Linked DNA regions of Homo sapiens: region 2 is linked to region 1. Evidence: fine-mapped expression QTL. A gene starts in region 1. The other region holds a variant in brackets. All regions are shown on one strand. Distances are from middle to middle. Region 1 holds the start of SDHAF3 (succinate dehydrogenase complex assembly factor 3). Region 2 overlaps LOC105375416 (a long non-coding RNA gene).

What was found. PIP is the estimated chance that this variant, and not a neighbour inherited with it, causes the effect. A credible set is the group of variants that fine-mapping cannot tell apart.
Region 2: its variant is the best candidate, but not a certain one, in a credible set for the expression of SDHAF3 in memory regulatory T cells (Schmiedel 2018, PIP 0.55).

What each region holds. Positions count from the first base shown.
Region 1 is chr7:97,114,817-97,120,199 of GRCh38, reverse strand. It overlaps SDHAF3 (succinate dehydrogenase complex assembly factor 3), which reads right to left and starts at 2,502. Exons shown (of 2, transcript NM_020186.3): 1 at 2,303-2,502. The coding sequence starts at 2,476. RefSeq lists enhancers at 2,325-2,414, 2,765-2,844.
Region 2 is chr7:97,460,387-97,465,769 of GRCh38, reverse strand. All of the region lies in intron 2 of LOC105375416 (a long non-coding RNA gene), which reads left to right. Among named protein-coding and RNA genes, the nearest start is that of TAC1, 270 kb to the left of the region's middle. The variant C/T (reference allele first, on the strand shown) is at 2,860.

The DNA.
Region 1 (5,383 bases):
ACAGGAAAACTGTTCTCTACAGACGCGTGTCAACTAATAAATTCAGAAGGAATGAGGGAAACAAAAGAGCCACCATTGGAACACAATGGCAAAATCCATCAATGAATGCTAAGACTAGTAATCATCTGAAAGCCTGAGAGTACCTACCCCCAAATATGTATTAATTTCAAAAGAGAAAATAGTAAGTTTACAGTAGAGACACCACGTGGATTATTACTTTAACCAAGTGATCACAGTTATCATCACCAGTAAGAAGTCATGTTAGTATCATGTGCCCTCTGACATTAAGTGTTGAGGCGAACACTTTGCCCATGTGGTATTCTTACTGAGATGTTATGAAATGCATAACATCAATTTAACCATGAGAAAACATCAGACAAACTCAAATTGAGATACATTCCACAAAGTAACAGACTAGTACTTTTCAAAAAAGTATCAAGGTAATGAAAGATAGGAAGACGGAGCAACTGTCACAGAATGGAGATTAAGGAAAAAGAATAACTAAATGCATTGTAGAATCCCCATTGGATCCTGGAACAGAATAAGGACATTAGTGAAAGGGCTGGCAAATTGTAAATAAAGTCTGTAGTTAACAGCATTGTAGCAATGTTAATTTCTTGTTTTTGATCACTGTACCCTGATTATGTAAGATGCTAACACAGGGGGAAACAGGATGTAGGGAACTCTCTACTGTCTTTCTAACTCTTCTGTATGTCTAAAATTATTCCAAGTTTTAAAAAGCTCAATCCCAGTTACCAAGCCTACTAGGTCAACTAACACATTTTTTATTTATGCAGTTCTTTTTTATACCCTCTCTCTCTCCTACAACCTATTATCAATTTTTTCTGAGTTGCTACTCTTTCCTACTTTTTCCCAAAGAGGCTTCCATGTGCTTACATTTTAAGACTTCTTAAAATAACCTTATTTCCTCCCAACAGAGAGCTACTCTCCTTCCTGTACGGCCACAAAATGACCTACCATAAAAGATGTAAAATACTTTAATACAGTATCTTATAGCTTCATAACAATTAGCAATACACAAGTGCTTGTAAATACATTTACATACGTAAATTTTGAGATGCATAAACACTTATTATTTTATAGATGAGAAAATAAGACTAGAAAAATTATGTGATCTGACACTTAAAATGTCAGAGACTGAATCTGAATCCAGTTCTTCAGGCTCCAAAACCAAATTACCTTATTAAAATAAAGTGCTCTGTGTCTGAAAAGCTTCAACTTCCCTGCTTCAGGCAAGCGAATTACATCAAATACACCATGATTTTCAAGAAAGTTCTAAATTTCCCGATTGTTCTAAATGTCGCTCTTAAAAGCTTCAATAATTATACAAAAAAGAATTCTGGAAGTCAGTGCAAAGTTTGTGTTCACCCTAACCATTCTTTTGATTTTTTTTTACAAAGCCGACTTCAGTCATCTCCCCTTCAACTATTTAGGCCGAAGAACCGCTTACCTCTATTTTCATATCAGCTCCAACTCATGCTTTCAAATATCTGAGCTGTCATTCCAATCTCTAATTCCATTCATTTATTTATATTTGCAAATGAAAACTAGGGGCAATCCTGCAGGGCCCCGAGCCCCACGAAATACTCTGAATATCTTTTTTCCTTTACTCAAAAAAAAAAAAAAAAAGTCAAACGACTTATTGCTAATGCATGTGTCTGTTTAATATTTAGCGCAATGGTGCAGGGCGAAGTAACAATGACTTGAGACCGGAGGAAACAACTTTCGCCTGACTTAACTGCCACCAGCATTTTTCTCCTTCACAGTTTGTAATCTCCAACCTTTTGTAATCTTTTTCATGTTACCTGATTTCTGTATCAGCCAAGTGAGAAAATTATTTAAACCCAACCAAAAGCGCTGAGATTAAATAATAAATTACGGAAATAAGCCTTTAAATTTGAAAACTAATAAGAGAACCATTAATTTATTAATGGGCGCTTACTAGGTGCAAAGGCACTTAAAAGGACAAAAAGCTCCTGAGGTTTTTGAGCACTTAACGACGACTTGCTCATTTTTGTGACCTCCTACCCTCACCCTTTGAGCACCTGGCATCTGCAGGAGCTCAAAAGTTGAACTGAATTGGGGACGCTGAAGTAACAGGATCTGCTCTAGTGAGAAACCCGTGGGAGAAACTTTGGAAAGTGTTACCTGAACAGCATTACGCTATTTCAAACAGAACAGGTTGCTGCTCTGTTTAACCCCGCATGGGGGACTGGAACTAGAAACCTGGACACCGAGGAACCCCAAAGGTCTTGGGCAAAGAGAAGGGAGCGTCACTTGCCTCCCATTCTTGCAAGAAACGCTGTGCCTCGTCAGAACCAACGGTCTTATGTCTCCTAAATTCGTCTTTCACGTACTGGTCGCCCAGGGATTTGAGGTCCGGGGGCAGAACACGGTGCAGCTGCAAGACGCGCTTGTACAATGCCCGGACTCGAGAAACGTGCCGCCCCGGCATAGCGCCCCACGCCGACCGCCGACTGCGCCTGCGCAGAGGGACGGCGCGTTCCCGCACTTCTGCGAACTTGCGTATTAGTGAACCGGAAGGCAGACGAAAGAGGGCGCGCGACCTCTATCCGGTTTGGTCCCTTGCACAATCAGGTCCTCCCGGAAACCCAAGCTCCGCTGCGGGCGGAAAACGGGTCGGTCCTTCTCTAGGAGGGGCGTGGCCCTCGTGGAGTCGCGCCTGCGCCTCGTCGTGGCTTCTTCTGGCCTGCGTCCTGACGACACAGGCCTTGAAAGAGAGAGGTCTGTGGTGGGCCGTTGTCATTTCTCAGTCCCACTCCACTGTCTTTTTCATTCAACTTCGTTTCTGTCCTCCTACCAAAGGCCTGAGAAAAGCTTCGTTAAGATCGGGCTCCTCCGGGATTCCTTCCATGGTTCCCAACCCATTTGAGGCATTTAGAGTATTACTGCACCCTGCTTTAGGGATCAGAGTGAGATTAATCTCGCCATCCACTAGCTCACCAACCCACGCTCTTTGCACAGCGCTGTTCTCCCAATTTATACTCTGGGCATGGGCTCTTCCTTGCAAACAACCCAAGTGAGCCCAGAGCTGGCGGACTCCTTAGCCAAAGTCAAGTTGGCTGCTGAAGGATCCTTGGGAAGAGTTTTAAACGTATTGTTTCCAGGACCACGACCCTGGAGATTCTGGTTAAATAGTCTAGGATAATAAGAACGAGGAATCTAGAAATTTACAAAGCTCTATCTTTTGCGAAGGTAATACTGAGAGTAGAACTGGTTTCCAAAGCTGGCAGCTCCTTGTGTTGTCCTTTCCTGTCACACGTTTGGTTCTTCAGCAAATCCTGATGGCGTCACCAACAAAAATGCAGAAATCAACCATTTCGCCCCATGTACTCTACCACAATCTCTCTCCACTGGATATTGTGTTAGCTTCCATATCTGTGTTCAGCTTCTGGTCATGACCAACTTTGGTCATGCTCCAACATAATTTAAATTAAATTTGGCCTAAAATTTCCTCCCTACTCTGAGTTGCTATGTAGGGAACTGCAACCTAACTTAGTATGTAAATTAACTGCAACTGAGAGTATATTCTTGTGACAAGTAGCTGAGCTTCAGCCAATCACAGGCTGCCAACTGATCAGACTATGTGCATATAAGGCAAATACGTCATAATGTCCTGCCCAAATAAGACTAGCCCAACTGTAAGCAATCAAGCTGTTTCTGTGGGGCACTTCCTTTTTCTGTCTATAAATACTGCCTGCCCACAGTGCTGGGTAGAGCTCTCTGAACCTCTCCCTGTTAAGTGCTGCTGCCTGATGAATGCCTCATAAATCGTGTGTGTGTGTGCACGTGCGCTCGTGCAAATAAACTTTATTAGATTTAACTTGTTTAAAGTTTTTCTTTTAACAATCTAAACTGTAAATCGGATCATTTCACTCCTCTGCTCAACAAAAGCCTCCAGGGATTTTCATCAGAGTAAAGCCCAGTCTCTAGCCCTTAAAGGTTTAAATTTTCTCCTATTGCTTTCTCCCTAGTTAGCCAGTTGCAGCCACACTGGCCTCCTAGCTCTTAGTTCATATTTTAAAAAGCCAGGTACACTCCCAACTGAGGCCTTGGCACTTGCTGTCCCGTCTACTTGGAGTGCTTTGCCAAATGTATCTTCCTGGCTAACACTTTTATTTCACTCAGCGCATACTTCAGGTCCCCTTCTAATGAGACCCTCCCTGGCAACCCTATTTGAAACCCTGCTTGAAGTTGCAACCTCACCAAACCAAGAATTTCTTATGCTCCTCCTCTGCTTTGTTTCTCTCTATATTACTTACATAATTTACTCATGTGCTTATTCTCCATTTATTATCCCCCAACTAGAGTACAAATTCTATAGGGGCAGGGATTTTGTGATTTGTTAGTGACCTGCACTAGGTCTGTAGTAAGCACTCAATAAATATCTGTTGAATTAATGTGTGAAACTCACTAACGGTGTCAGATGCCTCATATTCCTGCTGGTGAAGAAGAGGCAGAAATGTTGAAATTTGTGTGATTGTCTCACAGACCCCAGACTTCTTTCTGTGCAAAAACTTTCTGAAAGAAAAACAAGACACACTCAGCTACTGAAGGCAGGTACTTACTCATTTTAGTATCCTTTTCAGGGCCCACCACAGTGCCATACAAATAGTAAGTAGAATTTATTGCTTTGAATAGAGCTTCTCCTTTTGCTTAAATTTAGGGAAAATATGTGTTTTAAAAAACACAGAACTTTTTAAAAATGGATTTAATTTGGTATTATGACAAACTGCATTAATGGCAAGGATTGAATGGCAGCGTGGTTATTTTGCTTCAGGAAATTTTTTTCTAACCATACTTCATCTGTTAATATCCCTGTAAAATTGAAAATTGATTTCTTGTCCCCGTTTGTTTTTTTCTGGTTTCCTTTGGAGTTAAAGAACATGTGTAATAAATACCTCTTTCAAGAGCCAACACTCTTATAAAAATGTGAGAAAACATTCTGCCAATGAATTAATTAAAAAATAAAGGAATTAATTGAGCCTAAAGAGAGTAGAAAGGGTCCACAAAGCATTGGAGAATCAATGCTCAAAATGGCAGACGATGGGTGAAAGAGAAGCCAAGACATAGTGGTGTGGTTAGGCCTTGAGAAGTGGAATAAAGCAATAACAGTGAGAATAATGACAGTTAACCTTTATTTTATTTTTTTTACAACAAGCTGGACAGTGAGCTATGTTTTGAGGACAAAACTTTTCTCTGTTTCCCTGACCAATTTAGGCTGATCAGTGTTCCTCTTGTGGTAAAAATAGCCATGAACTGAAAATAAAATCACACTTATATTTCTGGCCACCAATCTAGATCACTACACTTCATGCAGACCTTTCCTTTATCCTTCCTT
Region 2 (5,383 bases), 350 kb before region 1:
TAACATTTAAATAGATAATTCAAATGATTTAAATAAGGTGATTTAAATAAGAGAAGATTGAAATAAGATGATTTAAATAAGAGGAGAATGGAAGCACAGGGGTCCAGACTGGTAATTCTTTTTTGAACCTTAATATGCATCTAATCAAAGAAACAGTGATTTAAGTGTTACTTGGCATCGTATCATAGTTTTAAGCTAGAAGCAACCCACAGAGATTAACTTTCCTTATAAGCCCAAAGGGATGAGTTGCAGGATCCCAGGCCACAGCGCTGGTGACAACTTAGGACTTAACCCTCCACGTCTTTCCTCCAAGTCTTATGTTCTTTCTATGATGCCATACAATTCTTTCTTCAGTCATTTGAGACATACTGTTTTATTAAAATGAGTTCTAACCCAGAAATTAAAGGCTAATTTTTTACCACATTTCTCTGGAATCTTTCTGTAAATTTCTTTTAAACACCATTCCAAAATCATCGTTGTTCTTGTGTGTTTACTCCACACCCCTCAATTCAAAATAGCTAACATTTACTGAATGCTGACAATGGGGCAGGAAGCCCTGTTCTAAGGGCTTACACATACTAAATCATTTTAATATCACAAAAGCCAACGCCACAGGCACTGTTATCATCTGTCTTATAAATAAAGCAGGTTTGACAGACTCTAGTAATCTGACCAAAAGCCCATGCTCTGAACACTATATCCATACTGCCTCTTACATGAAACTATAGCATGTACTCGTCAGGAGCTACACAGAACTGCGTGGGTAATCGCACCCACTGGGTGGCTGCAGACTAAGCCCTTACTCTTTCTCAAGGGTCTTTAAAACTGTTGCTTTGAGCCTGTCACTTCCTTTCTTACACATGGAAGCTCAAAGTATCTCAAAGCACAGTTGCTGATGACCACCAGATTAGAACTGTCTCACCTTAAAGAGGAAATCTCTTTGCCTATTGATTCAAGGTGGCATGAATATGCTCAGGTGTCCTCCAAACACCTGTGCTGCTATAAGTTGTATCAATAGCACAGTAGGATTATTCTCCATCTGATTATTCTCCATCAGTGGCCTTTGTGTGAGAGCTTCATTGTAAGCAGTGCAAAGCTATGATATTCAATAATCTGGAGAATATCCTTCTCTATCAGTCCCTGTACTGAACTCTCAGGAAAATTTACCTGCTTCACAATTATTTCTGTCCAGATTGTCTAGAGTCAAATGAATGCTCTGGGCATTTAAGATACATTGAATTTCTCCAAAGAATTCTGCCATTACTTAAACTGATGCCATGCCTGAATATTAGGAAGGTGCTCTTTGGTTGTTTTTGACTATGCTATACAGTCTTAGGGGAGGGCCTCGGAGCAGTAATAGGAGATAGCTGTGGCGATATGTGCTCAGGAAAGTCATTGAGAGTCCTTGTAACTAAAGGTGATCTGTAGGGTAGGAGAAACAGCAGAAGTGTAAGTAAGTGACAGAGGCAGGCTACAGACCTTCCAATGGACATGATAAAACTGGAAGGCTGTCGGGCGTGGTGGCTCACGCCTGTAATCCCAACATTTTGGGAGGCCAAGGCAGGTGGGTCACCTGAGGTCAGGAGTTCGAAACTAGCCCGGCCAACATGGCGAAGCCGCATCTCTACTAAAAATACAAAAAAATTAGCCAGGCCTGATGGTGGACACCCGTAACCCCAGCTACTTGAGAGGCTGAGGCAGGAGAATTGCTTGAACCCGGGAGACAGAGGCTGCAGTGAGCTGAGATCATGCCACTGCACTCCAGCTTTGGGGGACAGAGTGAGACTCCATCTCAAATAAATAAATAAATAAAATACAAAAAGCAGCCGGGCATGGTGGCACATGTCTCTAGTCCCAGCTACTTGGGAGGCTGAGATGGAAGAATCGCTTGAACCCGGGAGGCAGAGGTAGCAGTGAGCCGAGATCACGCCACTGCACTGCAGCCTGGGCGACAGACTGAGACTCTGTCTCAAAAAACAAAACAAAAACAAAAAAGTAGAAGGCCCCTACTACTGAGGGCATGCTGTCAGTGGGACACTAGAGCAGAAACCCCTAAGCTGAGATGATGAGATACAATGTTTTATAGCTTAGGCTCATACAATCTGAGTTGTGAGTTTCACAGAGGTTGATAAAATGTTTTAATTTTCTCCACATCACATCTGTTTAATTCCTAAGTCAAGTACGATTTGTGTGCTTCTTCTAGGCTGAAAATGTGTTTCAAGACCAAGTCAAGTTAATTATCCTGTACCACCCCTATTTCCAGAAAACAAATGTAATCTCACTTGGGTGAATGTTTTGGTCTTAAACCCGCTTGTTGGCATTCTCACCTCATCAGCTCTTTGCAGTAATTCCCATTCAGTCAGTAGACTATTCTTAAATGCTTTTTCTCCCTTCCTCCTCTGACAAACTCAAAATGTCCCAGTTAAAGGAAAATTCAACAACTATAGCTGGTGTGGAAGGGATTGAGGGATATCAAAAAGATGAACCAATTTGAGAGAAGATCGCTTTCTGACAGCAAAGCTTGTAAGGATCGTGATGATGGTTTATATTAGTGATCAGTAGAAGTAGCCCACCCTGGGGAAAGGTTAACAACTATGTTCCTGATTCTATTAACAATACTTCTCAAATTTATTAAGAGATAAACCCTACCTATGCATATTGTGGGTAGGGGATGAATGAATGAATGAATGAATACAGAAAATTGTTTTTCATGGCAGTTAGAATAGGATTCCTCCGTTTTCCTGGAAAAGACCCATCTTTGTTGATTGTTTTTGTAAACCCATTTGATTAGAGGCTGAGGCCTCAGGGTCGGTAGGATGTGCTGGTTCTCATACTAAGACAGTTTAGCTGAGCTCACTG[C/T]ATATGAAAGAAAACAGATTAAAAGTTGTACTGAGGCGGGGAGCAGTAGCTCACGCTTGTAATCCTAGCACTTTGGGAGGCCGAGGCAGGCAGATCACAAGATCAAGAGATCAAAAACATCCTGGCCAACATGGTGAAACCCTGTCTCTACTAAAAATACAAAAATTAGCTGGGTGTGGTGGCATGCACCTGTGGTCTCAGCTACTCAGGAGGCTGAGGCAGGAGAATCACTTGAACCCAGGAGGCAGAGGTTGCAGTGAGCCGAGATCACGCCACTGTACTCAAGCCTGGTGACAGAGCGAGACTCCATCTCAAGAAAAAAAAAAAAAAAAAAAAAAGTTGTACTGAGAGGAGTAGATCCCGTGAGAGGGAGCAGTGGTGAAAGACGGGAGAGAAGTGAAAGTCCAAAGGAAGTGCAGAGAGAAATAATTGAAACTGCCTTTGTAAAAGTTATGACAGAGAGAGAAAACTAATGTAGCTGACTCCATCTTGCTTCTAACCTCACAAACTATCTTTGCTCATTCCTGGGTGTAGGTGAAACTAAGTATGAGAGCCGTTTACTTTACAGTTTGACTTTAAAATAAAGATGATAATAGTTCCTTCCTCCAACTAACCCCCTACTTGTTCAGGGACTGAAATCGCCTTTGTAAAACTAATAAAAGGCCACAAGGTTAGAATTATGGTAAAGACCTGAATTCTGCTAAGACCTATGCATAGTTAAATGATAACTAGTTATTGTCTCCTAAATTGCTTGATGCTCAGGAGTCACAAGATTTGTAAGTTCTCTAATTGGTCCTATAGACAACACTATTTTAAAATGTCAGACTGGTGTTGGAAATATTTTTTTCAGACTTTGCATTGTGGTGGAACAACTGACACCACCTGAACCAATGACCCCCACCTAGGAACTGACTCAGCACACAAAGACAATTTCAATACTCCTATGATTTCATTCCCAACCAATCAGCAGCACCATTCTCTAGCTCCTTACCCACCAAATTATCTTTAAAAACCCTAGCCTCCAAATTCTTAGGGAGGTTGATTTGAGACATATCTCTCATCCTTCTGCTCAATTGCCTTACCATAAACTCTTTCTCTGCTGCAACACTTCTGTCTCACTGTGTTGGCCTTATTTGTGCAGTGGGTGACAAGAATCCAGTGGGTTATAACAGAAGTGGGCAAAGAGAGGTGTCTATTGGGGATTCTACAATTACTTTTTTAAGAAAAATTTTCAACTATATACTAGACAATAGCTTAATGTACCCCCATGTAACTATCACCTGGCTTCAACAATTATCAATTACATGGCCAATCTAAACTCTAACTTATTCCCCTCACCTCCCTTACTTTTTTTTTTTCCAGACAGAGTCTCACTCCGTTGCTCAGGCTGGAGTGCAGTGGCGCAATCTCAGCTCACTGCAAGCTCCACTTCCCGGGTTCACGCCATTCTCCTGCCTCAGCCTCAGAGTAGCTGGGACTACAGTTGCCTGCCACCATGCCCGGCCAAATTTTTTGTATTTTTAGTAGAGACGGGGTTTCACTGTGTTAGCCAGGATGGTCTTGATCTCCTGACCTTGTGATCCACCCACCTCAGCCTCCCAAAGTGCTGGGATTATAGCGGTGAGCCACTGCGCCTGGCCACCTCCCTTACTTTTTAAAGCAAACCTCGAGCATCACATTTTACCTAGATAAAGTTGTGTGTCTTTCTGAACCATAAGACTTTTTTATGACAAAACTCCAATACCATCAACAAAAAAACCCTGGCAATTCCTAGGTATCATCAAATATCAGTGTTCCAATTGCCTCATGAGTGTAAGAAAACATTTTATTTTGCAACATAAAGAAAAGTACATAAACCATAGGTTTACAGTGTAATGTGTGATACGGTTTGGATCTGTGTTCCCAATCAAATCTCATGTTCAATTGTAGTCCCCAGTGTTGAGGGTGGGCCTGGTGGGAGTGTAACCGCCCAGTGGGTTCACCTTGCCTGCTGCCTAGACAAAGCTGATTTATCAAGACAGGGGAATTGTAATAGAGAAAGAGTAATTCACACAGAGCAGGCTGTGCAGGAGACCGATGTTTTATTATTACTGAAATCAGTCTCCCTGAGCATCCAGAGATCAGAGTTTTTAAGGACAATTTGGTGGGTTGGGGGAAGCCGTGAGCCAGGAGTACTGATTGGTTAGGTAGCAGATGAAATCATGGAAAGTCAAAGCTGTCCTCTTGTGCTGAGTCAGTTCCTGGGTGGGGTCACAAGATCAGATGAGCCAGTTTTTTCCATCTGAGTGGTGCCAGCTGATCCATCAAGCTCAGGATCTGCAAAATATCTCAAGCACTGATCTTAGAAGCAGTTTAGGGAGGATCAGAATCTTGTAGCCTTCAGCCACATGACTCCTAAACCATAATTTCTAATCTTTGGCTAACTTGTTAGTCCTACAAAGGCAGTCTAGTCCCCAGACAAGAAGGAGGTTTGTTTTGGGAAAGGGCTTATGTTAGTCTATTTTCACACTGCTAATAAAGACAT